Homo sapiens: one gene and its partner. The protein of the gene in region 1 purifies or fractionates together with the protein of each later gene. This does not show direct contact. Each region holds a gene or a part of one and is shown in the gene's direction. Other genes may lie near its edges.

What was found.
Region 2: the proteins of IRAK3 (region 1) and IRAK2 purify together in Homo sapiens (co-immunoprecipitation; 2 studies listed by BioGRID and IntAct, with this or other methods). This does not show direct contact.

Annotation. Positions count from the first base shown.
Region 1 is NC_000012.12:66,184,616-66,192,375, forward strand, and holds the start of IRAK3 (interleukin-1 receptor-associated kinase 3), read left to right. Parts: upstream 1-4,598; 5' UTR 4,599-4,684; coding exon 4,685-4,817; intron 4,818-7,760. UniProt on the Homo sapiens protein: Putative inactive protein kinase which regulates signaling downstream of immune receptors including IL1R and Toll-like receptors.
Region 2 is NC_000003.12:10,167,507-10,175,319, forward strand, and holds part of IRAK2 (interleukin-1 receptor-associated kinase-like 2), read left to right. Parts: intron 1-7,813. UniProt on the Homo sapiens protein: Binds to the IL-1 type I receptor following IL-1 engagement, triggering intracellular signaling cascades leading to transcriptional up-regulation and mRNA stabilization.

The DNA of each region.
Region 1 (7,760 bases):
TGCTCCAACATTTAGAGTTCAGGGAGAAGAGGAGGAACAGCAAAGGAAGCTGTGGGGTGATCAATGAGGTAAGTGAAAAATATAAGAGAATGTGGTGTCCTAGAAGTCAAATGAAGAAAGTTTCCAAGGAGGGGGTGATCAACTGTATCAAAACTACCAATAGGTCAAGTAAGTGAGGACTGGAAATTAATTATTTTACGTAGCAATGATGTGGACATGTGTGACCCTGAAGAGAATAGTTTTAGTGGAGTAAAGTGGGAGGGGTGCTTCTAATTAGAGTTGGTTTAAGAGAAGATGGGAGGAGAACATTGGACACAGTGAGAATATTCAGCTCGACACTGCAAAGGGGAGCAAAGAATTGGGGCCAAAGACAGAAGGGGGAAGTGGCATCAAAAATTTTGGTTTGCATGGAATACTATGCAGCCATAAAAAATGATGAGTTCATGTCCTTTGTAGGGACATGGATGAAACTGGAAACCATTATTCTCAGCAAACTATCGCAAGGACAAAAAACCAAACACCACGTGTTCTCACTCATAGGTGGGAATTGAACAATGAGAACACATGGACACAGGAAGGGGAACATCACACACCAGGGCCTGTTGTGGGGTGGGGGGAGTGGGGAGAGATAGCATTAGGAGATATACCTAATGCTAAATGATGAGTTAATGGGTGCAGCACACCAACATGGCACATGTATATGTATGTAACAAACCTGCACGTTGTGCACATGTACCCTAAAACTTAAAGTATAATAATAATAAAATTTAAAAAAATTTTGGTTTAAGTTGAAAGAAACAACATCATATTTGTATGCTGATGGAATTGAGGTGGTAAAGAGTGAAAAACTGATCATGTAACAGGGACCAGGGAAAGCATGTGCCCTTGATGCCTTTGAAATGGTAATAGGGATAGGATCCAGTGCACAAACGAAGTATAATGATTTACATAGGACCCTAGATAATTCATCCATGGAAAACACGAAGAAAGAGTATGTTGGCAAAGATGCTAGTAGATAGTTCGATGTAGTAGTGAGATTCCGTGGAAGTTTTTTCCTGATGCATCAGTATTCTCAATAAATATTCTCAAGATAATTGGTGGAGGACAGGATGATGGGAGTTGAGAAAAAAGAAAGTATAGCATAGCTTTCAAGGAGACCAGAAGAATGCATGGGCTAAAGGTGCATAGTATGCTTGTCCAGTGGCATAAAGGACCCACTTGAGAGTCTTGGCCTTGATTTTAAATTGAGTTCAATTAACAGGATTTTGGTTTTCCACCCCGTTCCCCAGCTACACTCAGGTGCATGGGTGTGGAGCCAACTTAGAAAATTGGATTTAATCAGAATTGCAAACTTGCCAAGAGAGCTCAACAAAGTGAGAGAGGAGCAAGGGAATGTAGAGCATATGCAAAGGAGTGAATAAAATAATTGACCACAGACTTAATGGATAAGCAGAAAAGTCAGGATGTCAAGAGGGTGGAGCCAGAAAAGAGGCAGCAAGATTTTGGATTGGATATCTGGTGAAGGGACAGGATTGTTGGGGTCAGAGTACTAGAGGGAATGTGCTAGAAAGACAGGAGGTATGATCAGAGAGTGGATTCATGAAAGAAATTATAGATGGGATGCAGCTATTGATAATGACAAATTCTAGGGGACGCTCATGGGAGTAAGTGTCTGAAATGGAGCATTGGGTGGAGTACAATGTCACCAGAGAAGAGGAGTCAAGGAAATGAGAGGCCAGGGCATTGGAAAGATCACCATCTATTCTACATATATATATATATATATGTGTGTGTGTGTGTGTGTGTGTGTGTATGTTTTAATTTTGTTTCATCAACTTTTATTTTAAGTTCTAGGGTACATGTGCAGGATGTGCAGTTTGTTACATAGGTAAATATGTGCCATTGTGGTTTGCTGCACAGATGATCCCACCACCTAGGTATTAAGCCCAGCATCTATTAGCTATTGCTTCTGATTCACTGCCTCCCCCTACCCCCTCCCCTGACAGGCCCCAGTATGCATTGTTCCCCACCAAGTGTCCATGTGTTCTCATGGTTCAGCTCCCACTTATAAGTGAGAACATGCAGTATTTGATTTTCTGTTCCTGTGTTAGTTTGCTGAGGATAATGGCCTCCAGCTCTATCCCTATCCCTGCAAAGGACATGATCTCATTCCTTTTTATGGCTGCATAGTATTCCATGGTGTATACATACCACGTTTTCTTTATCCAGTCTATCATTGATGGGCATTTGGCTTGATTCCATGTCTTTGCTATTGTGAATAGTTATTCTACATATATTTTAAATCACTGAGAACTAAGATAGGATTAGTACTGGAGAGAGCAACAATGAGCCAGGAGCTAGAGAGTCTAAAAACGAGGAGAAGGAATTGGAGTCGGGGAGATCAGCAGTTGATAGCAACCATGATGATACAACCTGATGATATAAAAATCAAAACTCAAGACAGTTTTAGGAATAGGAAGGCAACATGGTCTGAGAACGACTGCCAACACTGAAAATACAGGAAATTTCACATACTCTAGCTTTCACTTAGGATCCTTGCTTCTTGGTAAATTACAAGATCTGGTAAAGCAGGCCTTTCTGATTGCTTCCCTCATCTGCAGTGATTTCCTGTTTCCTCTGAGTGAGTTTGCCTCCCTGTAGTAGCAATTCAAAAGCTACCAAATAATTAATGGCCTTTTGCCTCTGTTGCTCAGCATGTTCAGGTAGTCCCTTTAAGAGATGTATAGAGGGCCGGGTGTGGTGGCTCATGCCTGTAATCCCAGAACCTTGGGAGGCCTAGGGAGGTGGATCACTTGAGCCCAGGAGTTTGAGACCAGATTGAGCAACATGGGAAAACCCCGTCTCTACAAAAACTACAAAGGTTAGCCAGGCATGGTGGCATGCACCTGTAGTCCCAGCTGTACTGGAGGCTGAGGTGGGAGGATGGCTTGAGCCCAGGGGGTGGAAGTTGCAGTGAGCCGAGATCGCACCATTGCACCCCAACCTGGGCAATCAGAGCGACTAAAAAAAACAAATAAGAAAGAAAGGAGGGAAGGAAGGAAGAAAGGAGGGAAGGAAGGAAGGAAGGAAGGAAGGTAGGTAGGTGTACAGTGTGTACAGATTGACAATAAAACCTTGAACAACGGGATATCGAAATTCTTGCCCACACAGTATGGGCTTTGCCAGTTTTCAGATACATTTTTATGAAGTATTTTCGCTGGCAAAACCATTCAGGTAGGGGCATGAAATGATAGTGTTTCATCACTCGTGATCTCTAGGGGCAGCTATTCCAAAGACTACAATCTGAGAGGTTTCAAAACACCTCTGGTGTTTTCACTTGATGGCCACTGCCCACTCTTCCAGTCACTAAGGCTGAGATTTTTCTCACCACTTTCAAAACAACTTTTTGTCACTGGTAACATGCCTCATGTGACCTAGAAGATTTTGAAACAACAATTTTACTTAAACTCCGTGAAGATTTCAAAACAACAATTTTACTTAAACTCCATGTTGAAGGCAAAAAGGAAGATTGTGTGAAGCACTTTGAGGAAGGAAAAAATGATGGAACGATATTTCATCAAGGAAGCCCATGAGGAAGAAAATTTATTAAAACCAAGTAGGTGTATGGAGGAGAGGCCGCCTCGTGAAGAAAACGAACATAATTTTACGCTGATTTGGTGTCTTTTCTGTTTTTCTCTTGTTGGTATCTACATTCATCTTTTCCAATAATAATCCCATATATGTACATTTTTATCTGTTTAAATTCAGTAAAAGTTGGGAGGAAAATGTGTCAAAACTTTTAGAGTGTGATGGGCTGAGTGGGGTTGTGAGTGATTATCTTCTTTTTTCAGTTTTTTTCTGGGTTTTCCAAGTGTTCCTCGATGAACATGGATAGTTTTTCTGACAGGATAAAAAAGAAGTAGTCCGGGACAGTGGCTAACACCCCGAATCCCAGCACTTTGGGAAGCCGGAGGTGGGAGGATCGCTTGAGGCCAGGAGTTTGAAACCAGCCTGGGCAGCATAACGACACTCCCTCTCTACGAAAAACGAAAAAAAATAATTAGCCGGACGTGGTGGCGTGCGACTGTGGTCCCAGCTACTCGGGAGGCTGAGGTGGGAGGATCGCTTGAGCCCAATAGGTGGAGGCTCCGTGAGCTGAGATAGCGCCACTGCGCTCCTGCCTGGGCGACAGAGTGAGAACCTGACTCAAAACAAAGAAAAAAGGAAGAAAAGAAAGGAAGGGAAGAAGGAAGGAAGGGAGAAGCTTTCAAAAATAAACTTTTGTAAGAAGTAATGACACCGCTAGCCGTCCACACCAGGAGACCGCCTAGCCGTGGGGCACGGTGGGCTCCTGGGAGCTCTGAGCTCTGGGCTTTCTCCAGTTCGCACTCTGCTTGTCTCGGCAGCTCCGTCCCCACCGCAGAGGTGTGAAGGGGCGCAAAGCCAGCGAAGGGAGAACCCGGGTCGGGTAACCCCCAGGCCTGGCCAGGCGGACGCAGGGGCATCTCGGGCGAGGCGCGCCTTGCGTCACGTGGGCACCGCCCCTGCAGTGACCGGAGAACGGCGTGTTCCTAGGGCTCTGCTGCCGTCGTGGAAGCAGGATTTCCGCGGTTGTGTAACGGCCTGTCGCAGGCGTGCAGGGACCTGGACTCCGCCTCGTCCCCGGGGCTCGGGCAGCCGAGCCATGGCGGGGAACTGTGGGGCCCGCGGCGCGCTGTCGGCGCACACGCTGCTGTTCGACCTGCCGCCCGCGCTGCTCGGAGAGCTCTGCGCTGTTCTGGACAGCTGCGACGGCGCGCTGGGCTGGCGCGGCCTGGGTGAGTCGGCGGGGACCGGCCGGGGGCGGCGGGGGAGCCCAGCGCGCCGCGGGGCCCGCTCGGCGTCGCCCTGCATGGCTGGGGTCCCTCGCGGGGCTGGCGCGGCCTCCGGGAAGTTCCCGCCAGGGAGCCGGCCCCCTCCTTTCCTGGGTTGGATGCAGAGACTCCCTGGGACCCAGATGCCTTCCCTCCCTTCTCTTTCAAAGAATTTTGGGTATCGCTGCAAAGTCAAGGGAGCCGAGGCCTGGGAAAGACAGATAACCAGCGTGAAAGCATCTTCTGTTCGTCCGCGATGCCACCCTCACTGGGTTCGCAATGTATGATGTCTTCTGGTCCTTGCAAAATCACCCCAGAACATCATTTTAGTATTGAGACATTTTTAGAACTTTGAGATACTTATCCTTTGGTGTTTTCAATGCATCCCTAAGCCCCTAACTTAATTACAAGTGAAATGCTAAAGTAAACTACGGTTTGCAATGAACGCGGCTCCTAATTTTCTTAATTAAATCTTATTTACCCAATTTCGTTGAATGAAGGTTTATGCTAAAGGGTGGCTTTTTATTTTAATCTAAAAAAATTGGCTTCAGAACTGTATTTTATGCAGACATTGGAAAGTTGAGCAACTGCCTGCTGGAAGTGTTGAGTGTAGCCAGAGATAATTCGGACAAAAATCTTCGTTTTGTTAAGTACAGGCATTTTTGGTTAGATTTGATATTCCACAATGTCATGTTTAATGTTTATTGAAAAGAATCATGATTATGTCAAAATAACTTAGCTTTAATGGTCTGAAATAGGATTTTTCTTACCAGGACTAGCAGAAGGCCTAAGAGGAGAGTTTTCTTTGTTACTGATGAACAGTATGGTGACAGTCTTTGAATTGTAGCAATGGGCTTCTGGTTATACAAAAAATGTTTATATATTTTAAGCTCTGTAATTTTAAGTTATGGCCCTTAAGAAAAAAAAAAAAGTCTGATTTCTAGAAAACGAGATTTCCAGTGTGCATTTGAGGGATTTTGAGGGATAAGGTCACTTCCCCATCAGATCTTTTTGAGATGGATTTTGGCGTGGACAGTATTTATACCCGTTGATTTCCTAGAGTTACTGACTTTGAGAAAGAAAAGTGTTTTTAGTCCAGTTTAATGTTGGTGAATGGGGCCAGGTGGGTGTGGTAAATTAGTGAGGCAGATTATTCTCTCTCTTTCTGTTGATAGCATTGAAATCCAGATATTCATGCTTTACATGGCTTGTCTCATATAACTTCTCCAATTACTCTGTGAGTCATTATCATCGCCAGTGTTTTTTTAACAGGTCAGGAAACTGGTACAAATTGGTTAAGTAACTTGTTCAGGTTCACCAGCTGGAAATGGAAGAGCCAGGATCTGAACCATGGTAGTCTGGATCCAAGGCTTATGTCCTTAACCCCAGCTACTCTACACTTCTCCCCTTACTGCTGTGTTCTTTCTGGCCACATCTAACAGCCTCCCTAAAGTACAGACATTTCTGGCATCAAAGAACAATTCAGTGATCCATTTCAAGCATGCAGCCCTATTTTCCTAGTGGTGAAAATGAATGAGGACCACCCAAATGAGAACAAACAAAAGCTATTTTTTTCAAAGCAAGGGAGCCAGCACCATTGCTTGTGTTTGGCAGAGACTCAAAAGCAGACAGAGGATGGAGGAGGGTGGGAGAAGAAGGCTTCAGCTGTGTCCTGATTGGAGGCTGTTGATATGGGGAAGCTGTAGTTGAGCTACCTAAAAGGGGGTATTTTGTGTGTTTGTTTAGGGGTACATAATTGGCTTTCTCTGGTTGGCCCTAAGTTGGAAGTAGGAGCAAAAATTGAGGAAGTGGTCAGTAATTATTCAAGTCCTGGCCATTTGAGACAGGTTGCTACAGGGGTTCTTGTTTGGCTGCCTGGGCTAGTTGCTACAGTTTAACCCAGTTACTGATAGTTTAACTTGTTAGATACTGTAGACGGTAGGTTGGTTTCTTGGACTGGTTGATGTACATTGCCTGCAGAGTTCTATTTTTATATATAAGCTGGCCATTGTCCCTTTGTGTATTCATTCTCTCACAGGGAAAGGGTCTAAAATGTTTACTCCATGATACTTCAGCTGTAATTCATTGTGCAGGTGGTCATGCCTACTGACTGCCTGGACTACTGAGCTGGCCCTGACCAGGTGCTGCACAAGTTCTTGGCTCAGCAAGAAGGCAAGGCTAGCCCAGTTCAGGGTGTTGAGGCAACTGCCTGTGCTAAACATGCCGAGTTTTCCTGTGGGCACAGCGAAGGGAGAAAGAGGGGAAGAGGTGCAGGTAGGGAAAACTTGACCTTCGAGAGGGGAAGGAGAGTGACAGAGGACTGAATCAAAGAGGCAGTCCTTTGTATGCTCAGGACAGCTGACAGCCCAAGCTTAAATGTAGAAAACAACTGTAATATACTAAGTAAAGCTCTCTCGAGCCGATCGTGATTCTTGATGACGGTGAGTGTCAGGTTATGTTTACAAAGGCAGCTCATATAGCAGCCTATATGATATGACCAGTGTGTGCAGGATAAGGTAAGCCAGTCATTCACAAACACAAATCACCTATGCAGTCTTTTAAATACACAGATGCAGGTCCCACTCCTAGAGCTGCTGATTCAGGAAGTCTGGGTTGAGGGTCCAGCTTCTTTCATTTTTTGTCAAGCCCCAGGAGTGAGTCTGAGGCACAACCTGATTGGTAAGCCATTGCTTAGGCCAAATTCTCTTTTTTAATAGTGTCTTCATATAACAGATATTTTACTACATTCTTTCATTACTTCATTTAATTACTTTTATTTTTAAACATATTCTACATAGTACTCTTCAAATCACTTTTGTCAAGTATTGTTATTAAAAATAATGTAATCACAAGATAATATATTCTGTGGTTATCATTGATGACTTTATGGCTTTTAGTGAAAGCAAG
Region 2 (7,813 bases), on another chromosome or scaffold:
TGGGTTCATGCCATTCTCCTGCTTCAGCCTCCCTAGCAGCTTGGACTACAGGTGCCTGCCACCATGCCCGGCTAATTTTTTTGTATTTTTAGTAGAGATGGGGTTTCACTGTGTTAGCCAGGATGGTCTTGATCTCCTGACCGTGTAATCCACCTACCTCGGCTTCCCAAAGTGCTGGGATTACAGGCGTGAGCCACCGCGCCCAGCCAGTTTCTTTTTATTGTAGGATAATGTTCCATGGTATGGATATACTACATTTCATTCATTTATCAGTTGTTGGGCATTGGGTTCTTTTCACTTTTGGGCCATTGTGAATAGTGCTGCTGTGAACACTCACATACAAGATTTTGTGCAGTGGTGCAAATGTAGCTCACCGCAGCCCCAACTTCCTGGGCTCAAGCGATCTTCCTGTCTCCTGAGTAGCTGGACTACAGGTGTGCACTGCTGCACCCAGCTAACTTTTGTATTTTTTGTAGAGACAGGTTTCACCATGTTACTCAGGCTGATCTTGAACTCTGGAGCTCAAGCGATCTGCCCATCTCACCTTCCCAAATTGCTGGGATTACAGGTGTGAGCCACTGCATCTGGCTTTATGTTTAACTATTTGAGGAGCTACCAGATGTTTTCTAAAGTGGCTGAACCACCAGTGTATGAGGATGACCATTTCTCCACATCCTTGTCAACATGTGTTATTTTTTTCTTTTTTTAATTTTTTTTTTTTTGAGACAGAGTCTCGCTCTGTCGCTGAGGCTGGAGTGCAGTGGCATGATCTCGGCTCGCTGCAACCTTAGCCTCCTGGGTTCAAGCGATTCTTGTGCCTCAGCCTCCCAAGTAGCTGGGATTACAGGCATGCACCACCGTGCCTGACTAATTTTTGTATCTTCAGTAGAGACAGGGTTTCACCGTGTTGGCCAGGCTGGTCTCAAACTCCTAACCTCAGGTGATCTGCCCGCCTCGGCCTCCCAAAGTGCTGGGATTACAGGTGTGAGCACCATGTCCGGCCTTATTGTTGCTTTTTTGATGGTAGCCACCTGAGCCAGTGTGAAGTGGCATCTTACTGTGGTTTGATTTGCATTTCCCTAATGACTAATGCTGTGGAGCATCTTTTCCTGTGCTTGTTGGCCATTTGCACATCTTCTTTGGAGAATACCTCTGCGAGGCTCCCCACTGGGATGGATATGATCTGAACACCTTGCCAGGCATGTTGACTCTGACACATCTGCCCAGTGCTGGCCTCTCTGACCTCCTCTTCTTCCACACCCACTGTCACTCCCCTGCTCCAGCCACACTGACCTCCCTGGGCCAGACACAGGGTCTTTGCAGGTGCTGTTCCCTCTGCCTGGGACGTTCTTCCCCCTGTGTTACCTGGGGCTAGCTTTCTAGTCTATTAGTTTCCTCCTGTTGCAGTTATAGATTACTACAATATCAGGGGAACCAGCCCGCAGTATTTCAATGTAGGTTCTTTTCTATTTTCCCTAAGTGTCGGCCGGTCTGAGAAATAAAGAGTACAAAGAGAGAAATTTTACATCTAGGCCTCTGGGGGTGCTGTTACACATTGGTAGGACCGTGATGGTGACCCCGAGCCACAAAACCAGCGAGTTTTTATTAGGGATTTCAAAAGGGGAGGGGTGTACGAATAGGGAGTAGGTCCCAGAGATCACATTCTTCAAAGGGCAATAAAAGATCACAAGGCAAAGGTGAAATTAGAATTACTGGTGAAGGTCCATGTCCCACTGGGCACGCATTGTCTTGATAAACATCTTAACAGGAAACAGGGTTGGAGAGCAGACAACCCGTCTGACTAGAATTCACCAGGCTGGAATTTCCCAATCCTAGTAAGCCTGAGGGCACTGCAGGAGACCAGGGCATATTTCATCCCTTATCTCAACTGCATCAGACAGACACCCCCAGAGTGGCCATTTATAGACCTACCCCGGGAATGCGTTCCTTCCCCAGGGTTATCAATTATTAATATTCCTTGCTGGGAAAAGAATTCAGCGATATTTCTCCTACTCACACGTCCATCTATAGGCTCTCTGTGAGAAGAAAAATATGGCTCTATTCTGCCCGACCCCACAGGCAGTCAGACCTTATGGTTATCTTCCCTTGTTCCCTGAACATCACTGTTATTCTGTTCTTTTTCAGGGTGCCCTGATTTCATATTGTTTAAACACCCACGTTTTACAATCAGATTTCATATTTTTCAAACACACGTTTTACAAACAATTTATACAGTTAATGCAATCATCACAGGGTCCTGAGGTGACATACATCCTCAGCTTATGAAAATGATGGGATTAAGAGATTAAAGACAGGCATAGGAAATTATAAGAGTATAAATGTCCATAAAATCTTCACAATTTATGTTCAGAGATTGCAGTAAAGACAGACGTAAGAAATTATAAAAGTATTAATTTTGGGAACTGATAAATGTCCATGAAATCTTCACAAGTTGTATTCTTCTGCCGTGGCTTCAGCCGGTCCTGTTCGGGGCCCCTGACTTCCCACAACACTACAAAGTTGGTGGCCTGTAACACCTCAAGTTTATTATCTCAGCATTCTGGAGGTCAGAAGTCCTAACTCAGGGTGGCTCTAGGGAGGAGTCGGTCTCCTGGCCTTGACTGGCTTCCTGAGGCCTGCAGCATCCTGTGGCTTATGGCCCCTTCCTCCATCATCAAGGCCATGGGTGTGTATCATCACATCTGTCTCTGTGACTTCTGCTTCTACCATCACCTCATCTCTGAATCTGATGTTCTGGCCTCCCCCTTACAGGGACCCTGGTAATTACCTTGGCCAGACCCAGAGAATCCAGGATAATCTCATCTCAGAATCCTTGATTTAATCTAACCTGCAAAGTCCCTTTTGCTATGTAAGGTACCATATTCACAGGTCTCGGGGCTTAGGATGTGGATGTTTTCCAAGGGTATTATTCTGTCTGTCACAGTCCTTCAGGTAAGCTCCTGTGGCACCTCTTTGAAATCAAGAGGACTTTCCTGCCCCTGTTCCTCTCTAGCCCATCACCGTGTTTCATTTCCCTCATTCCGCTTCACAGCCTTTGATGTCCCCTCGTTCCTGAATTTTTTCCACCTGTCTCTCCCTATGGAATGGAAGCCCCGTGCGGGCAGGGGCCTTACCTGTCTAGTTTTTCACTGCTGTATTCCCAGAGCCTGGGACAGTGCCTGGCTAGAGGGCAGGTGCCAGAATGAATGATGAGCTGCCAGGCCTTGGTGTGGTGAGGATGCGGGCTGCCCACTCTTACCCATTGGAGCTGGCCTGGAGCCTTTGGTCAGCCCACTTCCTACACTGGATCAGAGCCAGCGGTGCCTCCGGCCCACTGCTCCTCGCCCAGTCCCAGTGCTCCAGTTCCCTCTTCAGCTGAATGAACGAGTGACTGTGATTGACCCTTCAGTCCTAAAAATTCTTGGCTTCCTGTGGGTCATTTTAGAAAGAAGACAGTCCCTCAGAGCTGATGGTGATACTGGGAGAGTGTAGTGAGAACGCTAAAGTGATTCAGAAGATCCCGCAGCCACAGACAGCCACGCTCTTTCAGATCCGACACTTGTTGGCAGATAATCTGGCCACGCCTAGTTCTTGTCTCCGTGATGGCAGCTGCCTCTGTTGGGCTTTGCCTGAGCCTGTGTAAAAAGGGTTTCCTACAGCTTCAGCCCCAGGTGTGTGCAGAGGGGCTCGGCGCAGGGGCTCTTCTGTGTGTGGCCGTTCCCCGTCTCGTTCACTCATGCGTGTGCCAGCCTTTGTGCACAGCCCTGCTTTGCCCTGCCCAGCTGTGTGACATCAGGCAGGTGACTATCTCTCTCTGAGCCTTTAGTTTCCTCATCCATGAAGCACCCTCACAGTGTTGCTGAGAGGCTTAGGAGACTCAGCTTATTGTAAAGGGTCAAGTTAGGGCTTTCCTCATCCCCCACCCAGGGAGGGGTGTGGGCATTCGATTCTAAGATGGGTCATTTCAGGAGGCTGTGCCATCCCTGCTGTGGAGGACTTTGAAGACAGGCAAGGTTTTCTACTGCCTCGGGTGAACTCCTGCAGGATTCAGGAACTCAAGAGTGATAGTCCCTGTACTGTTAATCATCAGGGATAAAAACATTTTCAGGCCAGGTGCAGTGGCTCACGCCTCTAATTTCAACACTTTGGGAGGCCTAGGTGGGAAAATTTCTTGAAGCCAAGAGTTTGAGACCAGCCTCGTGATCCGCCCGCCTCAGCCTCCCAAAGTGTTTGGATTACAGGCGTGAGCCACTGCACCCAGCCTTTTTTTTTTTTTTGAGACGGAGTCTCACTCTGTTGCCCAGGCTGGAGTCCAATGATGCAATCTCAGCTCACTGCAACCTCGGCCTCCTGGGTTCAAGTGATTCTCCTGCCTCAGCCTCCAGAGTAGCTGGGACTACAGGCGCCCGCCACCACACTCTGCTAGTTTTTGCATTTTCAGTAGAGATGGGCTGGGCGTAGTGGCTCACGGCTGTAATCTCAGCACTTTGGGAGGCCAAGGTGGGAGGACCACGAGGTCAGGAGTTCGAAACCAGCCTGGCCAACATGGTGAAACTCTGTCCCTACTAAAAATATGAAAATTGGCCAGGTGCGGTGGCTCATGCCTGTAATCCTAGCTCTTTGGGAGGCTGAGGTGGGTGGATCATGAGGTCAGGAGATTGAGACCATCCTGGCTAACACAGTGAAACCCCGTTTCTACTAAAAAAAAAAATTAGCCGGGCATGGTGGCAGGCGCCTGTAGTCCTAGCTACTCAGGAGGCTGAGGCAGGAGAATGGTGTGAACCTGGGAGGTGGAGCTTGCAGTGAGCAGAGATCGCACCACTGCACTCCAGCCTGGGCGACAGAGCGAGACTCCGTCTCAAAAAAACAAACAAACAAAAAATTAGCCAGGTGTGATGGCACTCGCCTGTAATCCCAGCTATTCGGGAGGCTGAGGCAGGAGAATTGCTTGAACCTGGGAGGTGGAGGTTGCAGTGAGCTGACATGTGCCATTGCACTCCAGCCTGGGCAACAAGAGTAAAACTCCGACTCAAAAAAAAAAAAAAAAAAAAGGCCGGGCGCGGTGGCTCATGCCTGTAATCCCAGCACTTTGGGAGGCCGAGGTGGGTGGATCACGAGGTCAGGAGTTTGAGCCCAGCCTGGCCAACATAGTGAAACCCCGTCTCTACCAAAAATACAAAAATTAGCTGGGCATGGTGGCACATGCCTGTAGTCCCAGCTACTCGGGAGGCTGAGGTAGGAGAATTGTGTGAACCCAGGAGGTGGAGGTTGTGGTGAGCCAAGATCGCGCCACTGCACTCCAGCCTGGGCAACAGAGCGAGACTCTGTCTCAAAAAAAAAAAAAAAAAAAAAAAAGTAGAGACGGGGTTTCATCATGTCGGCCAGGCTGGTCTCAAACTCCTGACCTCGTTATCCGCTTGCCTTGGCCTCCCAAAGTGCTGGGATTACAGGCGTGAGCCACCGCACCTGGCCAAACTCTATGAAAAACAGGTTTTCATAGAATGTAGATAGTTTAACACTTACAGCTAATACTTATATCATGTTTATTGTGTGTTAAGCACTGTTCTGAGTGCTTCTGTACATAGAACTCATCTAATCCTTGCAACAATCTCGGAGGCAGGTGCTGCTGTTATCCTTGTTTGACAGATGAGGAAACTGAGGCTCAGGGGGAGATGAACACCTTCCCCAAAAACACAGCAAGTAAGCAGCAGAGACAGGATTTGAACCCAGGCCCCGAATCCCAATATCTGGCCTCTGAACCACCACTACTGTCCTGCTGACTTTCGCACATGTTTTCATATCTGTAGAAAAAGTCTGGAAGATTAGACACCAAAATGTAACTGGTGGTGTCCTTGGAGTCCTCCAAGTGGGATAATCATGGGGACTTTCATTTTCTTGTTTCCCAAATATTCTACGATGACCAGCTATTACCTGTCCATGCTGAGAAAAAAGCTGCAGCTTAGCAGAAGGCCTTGGTAGTGACTCATCCCCTCAAGATCTCTATCATGTCCCGACTCTAAAGGGTCTGGTTGAGACTGGGTACGGTGGCTGATGCCTGTGATCCCAGCTCTTTGGGAGGCCAAGGAGGGTGGATCACTTGAGCTCAGGAGTTTGATACCAGCCTGGCCAAGATAGTGAAACTCCATCTCTACTAAAAATACCAAAAAATTAGCCGAGAGTGGTGGCACATGCCCTGTAGCCCCAGCTACTTGGGAGGCTGAGGCAGGAGAATTGCTTGAACCTGGGAGGCATAGGCTGCAGTGAACTGAGATCACGCCACTGCACTCCAGCCTGGGCAGCAGAGCAAGACTCCGTCTGAAAAAAACTAAATAAAATAAATAAAGGGTCTGGTTAAATGCTGATTGGTCAACACCTTAAGATATGGCACCGTCATGGAACAAAAATGTCTAAGCTGGAAGGCACCTTAGAGTTTAATTCCTGTTTCTCTTGTATTACCATCACGAGTAAGGAAAGTTCAGCCCACAGAGAGTCAGGCTGTGGCTGAGTTCCTGCTGCCACCCACGAGGGGTGGCCCTGGGCTTCTGTTTTCCCATTACGTCATGCTGCCTCCCAAGATGGGAGTGTGTGTGGATGACCAATGCTTCGTGGGGGGAGATGGTCCTTCCTTTTCCATCCGTTCTCTTCTCTGTATTGCTAGAAGCAGCCGCTGACCCAGCTGACATCACTTCCCACTGACCAGCAATCTGGCCTGGGGTTTCCAGTGACTAACATAGCAATTTAGGAACTTTCCATCTTAATTGGGCACTTCTCCTGGAGGCTTTCTGTGTGCAGGAGACTGTCACCAGCCCATTTTGTCCAAAGGGTAGGGGATTGTGCAATCTGGTCACAGCACTCACTGGCTCTGAAATTTTCTGTGGTCCCTTGTAACTCTTAGGATCAAGTCCAAACTCCAAAGCTGGGCATTCACTTGAGGGTCTTTGTTATGTGGTCCTGGGCTTCATCTCTTGCCTTCCCTTCTTCTACTCGGCCCACCTATGTTTATATATTTTTTTGTTTTGTTTTGTTTTATTTTTTTGAGATGGAGTCTCACTCTGTTGCCCACGCTGGAGTGCAGTGGCGTGATCTCGGCTCACTGCAACCTCTGCCTCCCGGGTTCAAGTGATTCTCCTGCCTCAGCCTTCCACGTAGCTGGGACTACAAGTGGGCACCACCACGCTTGGCTAATTTTTGTATTTTTAGTGGAGATGGGAGTTCACCATGTTGGCCAGGCTGGTCTCGAACTCCTGAACTTAGGTGATCCGCCCACCTCAGCCTCCCAAAGTGCTGGGATTACAGGCATGAACCACTGCACCCGGCTGATTACTCCTAGTTTTAATAAAAATGCCTTTCTCACTTCAGTAAACCAGTGGAATACTGGTCATAAAAATCCATTTATGGGCCAGGCACAGTGGTTCATGCCTGTACCAAAAAAAAAAATTAGCCAGGAATGGTGGTGTGTCTGTCATCCCAGCTGCTGGGGAGGCTGAGGTGGGAGGATTGCTTGAGCCTGGGAGGCCAAGGCTGTGGTGATCCATGTTTGCACCACTGTACTCATGCCACCTGGGCAACAGAGTGACACCCTGTCTCAAAAAAAAAAAAGATTTTTAAATTTTTATTTATTTTTAATTTTTATATTTTTGAGACTCAGTCTCTGTCGCTCAGGCTGGAGTGCAGTGGCACGATCTCAGCTCACTGCAACCTCCACCTCCTAGGTTCAAGTGATTTCTCCTACCTCAGCCTCCCGAGTAGCTGGGAGATTACAGGCGTGTGTTACCACACCTGGCTAATTTTTGTATTTTTAGTAGAGACGGGG